Linked DNA regions of Homo sapiens. The protein of the gene in region 2 purifies or fractionates together with the protein of the main gene of each other region. This does not show direct contact. Each region holds a gene or a part of one and is shown on either strand. Other genes may lie near its edges.

Region 1 (3,500 bases), on a different chromosome or scaffold from region 2:
ACTTCCCTTATGATAACTAGTTAGGACGTTCATGTGACCTAATTCTGGTCAATAAGATACGAAGAGAAAAATATGTTGGTAGGCTTATGCAAAAGATGTATTTGCTTTTCCAGAGACACAGACAGAAAGAGAGAGAGAGATCCATTCCATCCTCTGGCCAGTGCATGTCTAGATGTGATCTTGCTGCTGGCCTTAGGATGACTCCAACACACAGAAGACAAACAGCCAAGAAAATCACAGAGGGGCAGACCAGAGCTCTCAAGTACTAGCTTGGAGCCACCCACCCTACCTTCATACTTCAATGTGCCATTTCAGCATCTACTGTAATTCAGCAAGCAATGTGGTTACACCAAAATAAATAGCATACCACATATACCACTCCTTCTCCAACCTGGACTTCCTGCTCCTTCAACTGAAAGTTCTCCTTTCCATTTGGACTGAGCTAGGTGAGATAGGAGGCTCAAGTGCTCCTGGTATATATCAAGGGTGTCACATTTCCTCCTTCAAAGAACAATCTCCTCTACCCCAGCATTCCTAATTGGATGGAGATGTTGGAACTATAAGAAGGCTTACCCCTTCAACCCTGACAGTACATAAAAGTTGAAAGGTAGCTTATGAAATCAGATTAGGGACCATACTGGGAAATATGTGAGAACCATAGATTGATCACCTGACTAGATAAACAATTCACTCTAAGGAATGAACCTCTGGGAATAACAGGATCTTCCTTTTTTTTTTTTTTTTTCTTAAAGAGGATGTTATTAAATAAATCTCTAAGCAGTAGTGTAAACTAGGAAAGATGATGTTTTAGAAGCAGACTTCTTTAATATATTACAATTAATAAATGGTTCTGAAGTTAGCCTAAAAAGGAAATCATTTCTCAACATCTACAAACTCTATACATTTTATTACAACTAAAACAAAAATGTCCATTCACAAGACAATCTTATAATACAGAGCTATGGCCTTTTCTTCCAGTGTGGGTCTATCGAAGAAAGTTCTATTTCCTTTTTCTTGCAAAAACTACCCCCATAAAACAACACCTGTGATTTCCAGTTTCTGTTTCTTAAACACAGAAAGACATTTTACAAACGTGAAAAATAATATTATTGCAGATTTTTTTAGATCGTTAGGTGTTTTTTGTTTTTTTTTCCCTAATCATTTAAAATTATTTAACCCTCATCTATTTCAACCATAATTGATTTTGGCTACTCACTTGATTTCAAAGTAGCCAATTGGTTCTCATACAAACGCCTTTTTATCTTCAGAGTTCACTGAATAATAATTCATTAAACTATGTGATTACAACATCAAGTGCCATAACAGTGTGTTGGGTACAAACACAAATGTTTCTTGGTAAGTCTACAGTAACTGGGGGGAATAAAAGTTCAAGATAAAACTAAAGAATAGTCTACTGTCATTCAATGTAGCATGAGCATCAGTCAGCAAATTCTACAGAGAGAATGAAGACTATCATTTAATCTCACGAGTGGGTTAAGCAGAGGTCAGGTATGAGAGATTTTCCTGTAATAGGGTGTTCCCGAGAGTCTTTGCTTGTCTACCCACCAATCCACCCTCTAAAATTCTTATCGGCAACTTCTGAAATGAAGGACAGAAGATTTACACAGTGCCTACTATGTGGCAGGCATCACATAGTCCTTGGCACTTCATATGAATTTCCTCCATTTTGATGAAGAATATAATGGCAGAATAACAGGGTAACTCTCTTCCCTTTTTTTCCAAATGTAGCTATCAACTGAAGAAAGTACTTCCAGGTAACACAAAGTGATCTAAATAAATGTAATAAATTTGAATACAACTTCAACCTCACATTACTAACCTAGAGAAAAAAAACATTAAACTTTGTATTTAAGAAAAAGAGTATCATGAGACCATCTCTCATTCCATTGAAAAGTTATGAAAAATGCGGACATGATTTAGCCATGTGGACATAACTTACTCATAAATTTTCAATAAATTACAACTATGTAATATATCATTGGTAAACAAAGCGACCAAAAAAGTGTGTCTTATCTCCCCAATACATAAACACTTCAATTCATTGTTAAGAGTTATTTCTTATAACTAAGATGATAAGCACGAAGTGGCAGGAGAGAGTATAACCAATCACTATGGTCTAACAACAAATAAACACATACTTTCCTTAGGTTTCATAATAGAAGGGAAGCCCAAACATTTATAGTTGCTAAATCTCAGCTTTCAGAGAGAGCTTAAAAAAAAGAAAAAATGTCTAACAGCAGCCTCCACCATGTCGCTAGAAGTTATATATTTCTACATTTATCTCCCATTCCATATTTCCTGAGCAGTTCAGATGCCCTTGAAAATCATTTCACATTATTAAAGCACATTTGATTTCTACACATTAAGAATCCAAGCATAGTTCTGTCCTGCAGATCAGCAAAAGGTGATGCTCTGAGGTGCCTTAAATTACCAGAACCATACTGTCTGCACCTACAGGATCCCACAATTAAAGACAGATACCTCAAAACTACCGCTTCTGAAGAAATTACATCATAAAGAACCAACACTCAGACACATACTATCAATTAATACCACGAATTGCCAACCGCTTGAGAAAAGACCAAAAAAAGGATGAAGATGGAAGATAAGAAAAAACAGATCATTGGTGGCTTAAGACTTTGAAGTCAGAAAAAAAAACTGACTCAAATATGCACTCTGCTACTTCCAAGATATATCTTCAACACATTATTTAAACTCTAGAAGACTGTTTCCTGCTCTCAAAAATGAGGTTACACCACCTAACTCAGAGTTGTCGTAATAGTATCATTTATGGCCTCTATACAAAGTAGGCACTTAATAAATTATAGGAGGTATTGTTGTTACTGGGAGGTTGAAGGGAACACAAATTCAGTTATAAGTCCTTTTTGAATACTAAGAGGGGAATAATTAGGGAAGCTAAGAGGGGAATAATTAGGAGAAGAAAAAAAAACTTCAAACAATTTTCCCTGTAACATGATTTTACTTGCATTTATAAACTGATTTTTTTTTCTAAGCACTCCTTTGATAATGATTAAGTGTGGGGTTACATTATTTTAGGGTCGTCTAATATTTAAGATGACTTAAAAACCTCACACACGTTAATCCCGAACTGTGAAAATTTCTCATCTTATCATCCCTCTGTTACTATCAATTTTCCTCACGTACAGATTCTTTTATAATTACTTCATTAAAACCACTTTCTGTGAAAATATACATTCTTTACATTTCATCTCATCCACAGCAAATCTCACTATTAACAATAATATAACTATTCAATGACCTATATTTTGTTATTCAATACTTCAGCATTCCTTCTATTTAATTTGACACATCCTTTTGGGAAGCCCTTTGGAACAAAACAACCGCTTGTTCCATTCTGAAAAACATCTGAAACAATAAACTATACCAGAATAAGTCTACTCCCAGCATGGAGAGGATTACAGGATGGATCAGAGGAGACACAGAGAAGTAACTGGAGA
Region 2 (5,628 bases):
GGGAGGGCTGGTTTCTAGGGGCATCAGTGCAGGCAGGAGCTGCCTGGTGGGGTACTGAGCTTCTGGAACAACCAGGCTTAATGAGCCCAGGGACAGAGCCTGGGAGAAGGCCCTGGGTCAGGCTTAAGGCCCCAGACTGAGAGCCACAGAGCGGCAAGGGCTCCAGGAAAAGCCCAGCCTGGCCCTTATGTGCCTTATGTGCCTTGAGGCTAACAGGCCCAGACTCAGCCCTGTTCCCTACTCCGGACATGATTCCTACAGCTCTTGCCAGCAGGCTAGGGGCGGGCTCCGTGCTCCCCAGCCCCTCCCCGAGCCTCAGGCTTTGACTCACCTGGCCCCACTCTGTATGCCTTCTTCTGCCCTCCTTGACTAAGACCCTCCAGGCTCTGTTCAGATCTGGTCTCCTGCCCTGCCAGCCCCATCCTTCATCCTGCTCCCAGGGCACTGCCCTTCCCTCCGTCACACACTCCTTACCATGTGTGCTGATGATCTGGTTAAGGGCCACCTCCCAACCAACCAAGAGCTCAGGGACAGAGACGGGTCTTGCTCACCCTGCGTCTCTAGGATCTGGCCTAGAGCAGGCAGCAGGTGTTTAATAAAGAGCTGTTGACCTGAAGGGTCCCTGTGTACAGCCCTGGCTCTTAGTGTCTGGCGCCTCTCCCTCTGCCCTTCCCACAGGGTGAACTCCCAACCCCCCATATCCGTATGCCTTTTCCTGCCTGCTTTGCCCACCAGCCAGAAGTGCTGCGGAATCAGTGCCCAGGAGCAGCAGCAGCTGGTGGCTGATGGGAACTGGTGTACAAATATCCCAGTTCCCCGGCCCCTGCTGTGAGACATATCTGAGGTGAGGTGTGTGCTTTACATCATTGCCCAGAGTTCTATGGTGGGAGCAAGCTTCACTTCCCACAGGGTAACTGGCTTGATTTCAACAACAAAAGCAAACCTTTGTTGGGTGTTTTCCCTTCCCTGCCCTCATCCTCACTCTACCAGCCAGGGACCAGGCACAGCAGGACCTACCATCAATGCCTCAGGCAAGCTGCCCTGAGGTGTGCGAGGGCATGAGGGAGGAGGAGGAAAGGGAGGGGACAGGGGAGGAGGAAGGGGAAGAAGGGGAGAAGAGCGAGGAGGTGGGGGAGGGGGAGGGGGAGGAGGAAGGGGAGGAGGGCAAAGGGGGAGGGGAAGGGGGAGGAGGGGAAGGAGGAGGGGAAGGAGGAGGGGAAGGAGGAGGGGGAGGAGGAGGGGGAGGAGGAGGGGGAGGAGGGAGGAGAAGGAGGAGGAGAAGGAGGAGGGGGAGGAGGAGGGGGAGGAGGAGGGGGAGGAGGGGGAGGAAATGGAGATGGGTGAGGAGGAGGGGGAGGAGGGGGAGGAGGGGGGAGGAGGAGAAGGACGAGGAGGTTCTCACCTGGATGCTCTTGTGTAGGAGGCGCTCACTCAGCACCCGCAGGGAGACACGCCTGCAGTGGTCCAGCTTGGCCTCACGCCACAACAGCCTGTCAGTGGACGTGTCGTAGATTGTGTAGCCGCTCATGTCCTCTTTCAGTGCCTGGAAGTCGTGCTTCAGGTCATGACCCACCACCAGCTTGCCTTTCAGGAGCTGCAGGATCTGGCCAGGAAGACATGTGCCCACCCCTACATGACCCAGCATCTTCTGGGTGGGGCTGGGGCTGGCAAGGGAGCAATCCCTCCTTGACTGGCTGTGTGACCTTGGGCAAATTATCAGTCCTCCCTGGGCTTCAAATGTATCATCTTTGAAAAGAAGAGATTGCACTAGGACCCTCCTCACACCTGATAGTTTCATTCTGTGCCAAAAGCCCACCTGGACTCCTTCAGGAGCTGAACTGTGTAGGAGCAATGGTTAGTACATCCTGAGTATTTCCCAGGTGCCAAGCGTGCCTCAACATACGTCATGTATATTATGTTGTTTAATCTTCCCAACAATTCTATTATGGCAGGCAGAATAATGACCTCCCAAAGATGTCCACACCCTAGTCCCCAGGATCTGTGAATGCATTACCTGGCAAAGAGGAATTAAAGTTCCGGGCAGAACTTAGATTGCTAATCAGTCGACCTTCAAATGGGGAGATCACCTGGCCTACCCATGTGGTCCCAACATAATCACAAGCCTCCTTACATGTGGAGGTCAGAGTGAATCCACATGAGGAAAACAGGCTGTTGCTGGCTTTGAAGATGGAGGGAGGGGCCGTGAGTTAAGGTATTCAGGCAGCCTCTAGAAGCCAGAAAGGGCGAGGAAATGGATTCTTCCCCAGAGCATCCAGAAGGAACCTAGCCCCACTGACACTTTGATTTTAGACCAGTGAGACCCACGCTGAACTTCGAAACTACAGAACTGTAAGAGAAGACATCTGTGTTGCTGTGAATCACTAAGTTGATGGCTTCCTTACGGCAGCCACAGAAAACTAACAGTGAGGAGGGAGCACTGCATTTAACTGAGTTTTACAAAGGAAATATCTGAAATGCAGAGGAGTGACATGCCCAGGCTTACTCTGATGATTTTAAAACAAGTTTGCAAATTCCTTGACACTCTTCTTAAAAAAGATGGAATCAAACTCCCCTCCCATTGCATATGGGCTGGCCTGTATGACTTCTGACTTCTCTCTGGGACCGCAATTCTATAAGAAGTCCGGCCACCAGCCAGGCACGGTGTCTCACGTCTGTAATCCCAGCACTTTGGGAGGTGAGGCAGGTGGATCACCTGAGGCCAGGAGTTTGAGACCAGCCTGGCCAACATGGTGAGACTCTGTCTCTACTAAAAATGCAAAAATTACCCATGCGCCGTGGCTATTCCCAGTTACTCGGGAGGCTGAGGCAGGAGAATTGCTTGAGCCTGGGAGGGAGATTGCAAGTGAGCTGAGATCGTGCCACTGCACTACAGCTTGGGCGACTGAGCACGACTCCGTCTCAATAAATAAATAAATAAATAAATGTCTGGCCACCCCAAAGCCACCATGCTGGAAAGACCACGGGGAAAAGCCACCGAGATAGTGATGTGTCCAAGGCAGGCCAGCACCAGCCACCAGACAGGTGGGTGAGCAAACCTTCCAATGGTTCCAGCCCCCAGCCTTCAAGGTGCCTTAACTGACGGCCTGTCCTGCTGCAGAGCACCTGCCCAAACTGCAGGTGGCCGAGCGAAATAAGTATTGACATTGTTTGAACCGGTAAGTTTTGGTGTGATTTGCCAAGCACCATTTGATAACTGGGACAGTCACACGGCTAGTTAGTGGCAAAGCCAGGCCTTGAAGCCAGTGGGATGAATCCAGAGCCCGCCTGCCACTGCCACACTGAGCCAGAAGAGTGAACGACCACTCCAGGCCTCCAGCAGCCCAGGCGCCCAGCTGTGACTGCCCCAGCCCCGCGTTCCTCGCCTCGCCTCCCACATGGACAGCCTGCCCTGCTCTGGTCACACAGGCCAGTCAGCTTGCTTTCACTCAGCTGCCGTTGGAGAGGATGGGAAGGGGACCTGAAAATAGAACAGATGTGAGCTCTATTAGGGAAAGGGGCGGCTCGTGGCTAGTCCAGGCCCACTTTGGACAGCTCTAGGACAGCCTTCGTCTCCTTCTCTGCATGTAGCCCACGACCTTAGCCTGTACACCAGGAAAGAGCCTTCTGGTGCCTAACACCTTCCCCGTAGCCTGCTTCTCCTTCTAGATAGCCAGCGGCCTCCTGGAACATCATGTGTTCCCTTTTACATGTTCTCCCCTGGCAACCACAGGAGACTGAGGCTCAGAGAGGAGATGTGACTTGCCCAGGGTCACTATGCGGGAAGCAGTCTGTCCATCCACTGTCAACAGGCAGTGTCACCAGCCTGCCCCGCGGTCCACATGGTCTGGTTGGAGGCCTTCTCTGGACAGAGCTCACGCTCGACTTAGAGGACTGGGGAGAGTGTGCTGGAGAATGAAGGGGCGCTGCTCCTGAACCACACCAGCGCTTCTCAAACTTGAGTGTGCTAGAGGTCACCTGGGAAATGGCGACAAAACTGAGGCTTTAAAAGATGACAACAGGCACACGACCTCAGAGTAGCAGCTCAAGGGAAACTCTGTGCAGAGGAAACCACCCAGCACGCAGCGGCGGGCAGAAATGGCACGGGGCGTGGAGAGATGTGGGTGTGTGGGCGGCCATGGGTCATGTGTCTTTTCTTGCTAACATCCTTTGTGCTCCTGAACAATGTGGCCTGTTTTCCCCATCTAGGGGCTTGGCTCAGGCCCAGTTCACACAAAGCCCTGAAGGAACTCATCCACCATCCCAGAGGCAGCCACAGCTGGGCACAGACGTAGAAGGTACGAGTCATCATGGTGTGGATTCCCAGGAAACCCATCACTTCCCGAGCCTGAGAGTCTGGAGAGGGGAAGTGGGGGTCTACATGAGGCACTATGTGACTCACCACGAGACAAATAGAATAAGAGGGAGAGGACAAGCCGAGGAAAGAAGAGGAAGAAGGGAAAGAACAGAACCATCTATTTAGCAAAGAGACACCACTCTTTGGGACAAAGATTCTGGGAAGGAAGAGATGCTGGAACTTGCTGTGTGACCTCAGGGATGTCAAAGACCCTCTCTGGGCTTCAGTTTTCCCATTTGTAAGGTGAGGGCCCAGACTGGTGAGGCTTGAGTGGCCCTTTAGCAGCCAGGGCTCCACAGACTGAGGCAGGTCTGAAAAGGGAAGGAGTCGGGCACCTGCTGGAGCCCAGGAGTCGGAGAAAGGCACTGGCAGGCTGGCCTCGGGGCTGTGTGACCTGCTGGCCACAGGACCTGCCCTGAGTCAGTGTCATGAGGCAAGTGTGCCAGACTTTGCCACTTTCAAACACAGGGGGAGGAGTCTCTCAAATTCCTGGAAAGAACTGGGGTGGGGCTGGGGGATGGGACATTTATTGATCTCTTAGCAGCCTGGCACTGTGCCAGGCACTTTCCTTACCTCCTCAGGAAGCTCCTCAATGAGGTTATTCTTAATTCCATTTTACAGAGGAGGGAGCCCGAGATCAGAGAGATTAAGGGGCTTGCCCAAGTCACACAGCTAGTCAGCTGAAAGCTGCAGTGCCGTGTCTGGATCCACCTGACCCCATCATTGTTACTGTAGTTGTTATTATTAGCACAAGGACCAAGGGACAGGGCACTACCAGGCACACAATGATAACGGTGCAAGGCGGTGACTTCCATACCATCTGACCCGCCAGCAAAGCGGGGCGCAGGGCGGTGTGCACCCAGGTCACAAGCAGGGGAGTGCCAGACCAGGTGCGGCTGTCTGCCTGCACACACCTTCCACTGTGTTTCCACTCTACTCCAAGTATTTCCCAGATGTGCCTGATCCAAAAATCCAGGAGGGCCAGGCCCTACACAGACCTACTGAATTGAAATATCCAGGGAGGGGTGTCAGCAACTGTTTCAGGGGATTCTTCCCATCTAACAAGTCTGCACATCTCTGCACTGAATCCCGCTGAGCAGTCCAGAGCCTGCTGCCTCTACCATGCATTCATTCATCCATTATACACTAGTTCACGTACCCATTCATTCATTCTTGGCTGCCAGGAGAGGAGGCTATGAGTAAGGGGCCCTGAAGAATCTTGTTCTTACAGAGGACAGGTCCCTTACTATCACCTTCTGGAGTGGCTCCAGCCC
Region 3 (2,780 bases), on a different chromosome or scaffold from region 2:
CACGTCCTGGGGCCTGTATGCTTACTGTTCCCTCTCCTAGAATGTGCACCAAAGTTCCTCGCCTTTGTTGATTGATCCTTCTTTTCATTCAGCTCACAGATCGCCTCCTCAGGGAGGCCTTACCTGGCCACTGTATTTAAAGTGGTCTCCTTCAGTGACCCTCCTTCCCTTCTCCCGGTGTATTTCCTTCCTAGTGCTGAGTGCTCTGTAACGGACTGTTTGCCTGTGTTGGCATCTGTTTCCTCCACTAGCCTGTGGGTTCATGAAGGGCAGGGACTTTTGTCTTGTTTGTGTTGTGCCTGGAGAGTCACCCAAGGCCTGGACCACCTTGAGTTCCAAATATTTGTTGCATAAACATGTTCTAAGTTGGGATGTCTCCACTTCAGTTTTAGCCCCTCCCACAGTGCCAACTTGTACCAGTGGCCAAAGTCAGAGAGAGACAGTGAGAGAGAGAGAGAGAGAGAGAGAGAGAGAGAGAGAGAGGAGAGGTGCCAAGGAAGTATGGTTCAGCATCAAACACATTTATTTCACTTATATTGAGTATACAAGAACAGAGAGCACACGCATACAGCACGGAGCACTGAGGTGGGGGAGCATGGGGACGAGAAAGGAGAGAAGGGTGTGAGTAAAAAGGAACAGGACAGCATCGCAATTGGTTGTTAAGGTGCTTTTGAAAAAAAAAATTATTTCGAGTGATGTTGCTCATGCAGTTTCAGGCCAGTCTTGGAATGTGCTTGCAGGATTCAAAAACTGAAACAGGTCCTGGTACTTCCTGTACCCTCAGATGGAAAAGATCCAGAGAAAACAAAATAAGAGAAAATGAAGACCCATGAGATAGCAAAGTAGAAAAAGACCCTGGAGAGCATCTGGTTCTTTCTGCTTATTTTGCAAGTCGGGAAACTGAGGCCCAAGAGGGGGAATGGGGATAGCCTGATGTCACATGGTGAGTTAGGAGCTGAGCCAGGATGGTCACCCAGAACTCCTAACCGCCCTCAGGGACTTTTTCCACTATGCTACATGGCCTCCTGGGTGGAGAGGTGGCACAGAGAGGATGAGAAACAAAAAAGAGAAAAGGAAAAGTAGGTTGAAGACAGACAAGACAAACGTCTCTATTCTCTACAAAGAGAAGGATGGGGAGGAAACAGTGCCCTAGATTCTAGCTTTGCAGGTCCCCTCCTCCCTCGTGGCACTGCCTGCATCTCCGTAGAAGGGAGGTCACAGCATCCGCGGGATGGTGATTTCCCCAAACCCTGGTGGCCCATAAACTCCACAAGCTAAGCCTGGTCACTTCACCCCTGCCCCAAAGCCAGGTGCAAAATCCACAACAAGGATCCTCCCTCTGAGGTGTGTTCAGTGTGCTCAGGACTCCTGGTTCCTGCAAAGATGAGTTCCTAGACCGAAGTGGCCCAGAGAGGATGGAGCCACCACTCCAGCTCTTGACCCAGAAAGAGGGGGAACTCTCAAGAAGGGCAGGAAGAAGGTTCTGTGGCTTTTCCACCAGGATTGTAGAAAGAACCTGGTGTATGGAAAGTGTGCTGCTACACTCAGGGGGAGTTGGAGTGGACCCACCGGCCTGCACCAGGGGGAATGCCACTGATTCTGCTGCCCCGCTGAACTTCCCATTTGCCCAGAGAAGCAAATGCTATTCTGATTTCCTGCCCTGCCTCAGGCCAGCACCAGCTAAGCAGCTAAGGTGTATGTCATCACTGACAAGCCAAAGGGACGCATCTAACCTGGGCCGCCTGGGGGCATCCCTGGGCTATGCCCCGATAGGTTGGCGAGAGTGGGGAGATGCTCTCAGATGGGCCAGCCATGGTTGAAATATAAAGCTGGCTCAGGTGGCTCCTCAGGTTCCGCCCTCCCCTCCCACCTTCTTCAGCCTGAGAATAGTCCCTGGCACAAGCAGGTAATCAGTAAATACTTGTGGAATGAATTTATTAACTGGTTTAGAAGGAGGACTGGGAGGTAAAATGGAACTGAGAAATTCGCAGTGCAGTGGGACATTTTCCCTCATCAAGGGGCACTTTCTGAGCTCAGAGAAGTAGCTTGTGGCAGACAAGCCTGAGGAAGCCCACGTGTGGCAGAGAGCAATGCCAAGCTTGTGATGGGAGCTTCTTGAAGGGTTCCTGTGGTCTTGGGGTAATTTCTGGGCACAAGCTCAGAGTTCAGCTGTTGACTGAGAGGGAGGTCTCCAAGCCAAGGTCTTATGCAGAGCTGGAGCCTATGAGCAACATCACCCGTCAGTCTCAGCTTTGTCCTGGGACAGGGGAGGGCTTTGCAAATGCAGTTTTGATCTTTCAGGGTCTGCCCCATGAAGCCTCCTTACCATGGCTACTTTGGCCTGAGAAGAAGAAATGATTCAGAACAAGGAAGAGAGTAGAGGAAAAGGCTTAGCTGGGAATTTTTAGACAGTCAGGTTAAAGCCACCATCTTCTACAATGGCTGAGAGCACCACCTCCCTTTGGATATGGAGTTGGTTATTACAATGGGGTCAGGGAAGGGCAGAATGTGGCAAAAAAAAAAAAAAGAGAGAAAGAGAGAGAAGACTGAAAACCAAGGCAAGCCCCGTAGGGAGATAAGGACTAAGCCAGGGACCTCTACTGTGGCAACTTCAGCAGCAGAGTCCCAGACTGGGACCCAGTACCTGAGCACAGACCAGGCCCTGACTGTTACTACCAGGGGGGCAGGGAGAAGGTGTCTTGAACTGGCATTTTGGGGACGACATCTGTGTTGCTTCTTTCTTGCCAAACCCACACCTCTCCATTAGGGCCCCCCACCCC

The links. Proteins that work in one complex are often made in the same cells at the same time.
Region 1: the proteins of ISG20 (region 2) and CSNK1G3 purify together in Homo sapiens (affinity purification with mass spectrometry; 2 studies listed by BioGRID and IntAct, with this or other methods). This does not show direct contact.
Region 3: the proteins of ISG20 (region 2) and EPB41L1 purify together in Homo sapiens (affinity purification with mass spectrometry; one large-scale study listed by BioGRID and IntAct). This does not show direct contact.

The regions. Positions count from the first base shown.
Region 1 is NC_000005.10:123,515,177-123,518,676, reverse strand, and holds part of CSNK1G3 (casein kinase I isoform gamma-3), read right to left. Parts: intron 1-3,500. UniProt on the Homo sapiens protein: Serine/threonine-protein kinase. Casein kinases are operationally defined by their preferential utilization of acidic proteins such as caseins as substrates. It can phosphorylate a large number of proteins. Participates in Wnt signaling.
Region 2 is NC_000015.10:88,648,085-88,653,712, reverse strand, and holds part of ISG20 (interferon-stimulated gene 20 kDa protein), read right to left. Parts: intron 3,479-5,628; exon of another isoform or gene 1,799-3,478; coding exon of another isoform or gene 1,604-1,798; coding exon 1,403-1,603; intron 1-1,402.
Region 3 is NC_000020.11:36,230,520-36,233,299, reverse strand, and holds the end of EPB41L1 (band 4.1-like protein 1), read right to left. Parts: 3' UTR 501-2,780; downstream 1-500. UniProt on the Homo sapiens protein: May function to confer stability and plasticity to neuronal membrane via multiple interactions, including the spectrin-actin-based cytoskeleton, integral membrane channels and membrane-associated guanylate kinases.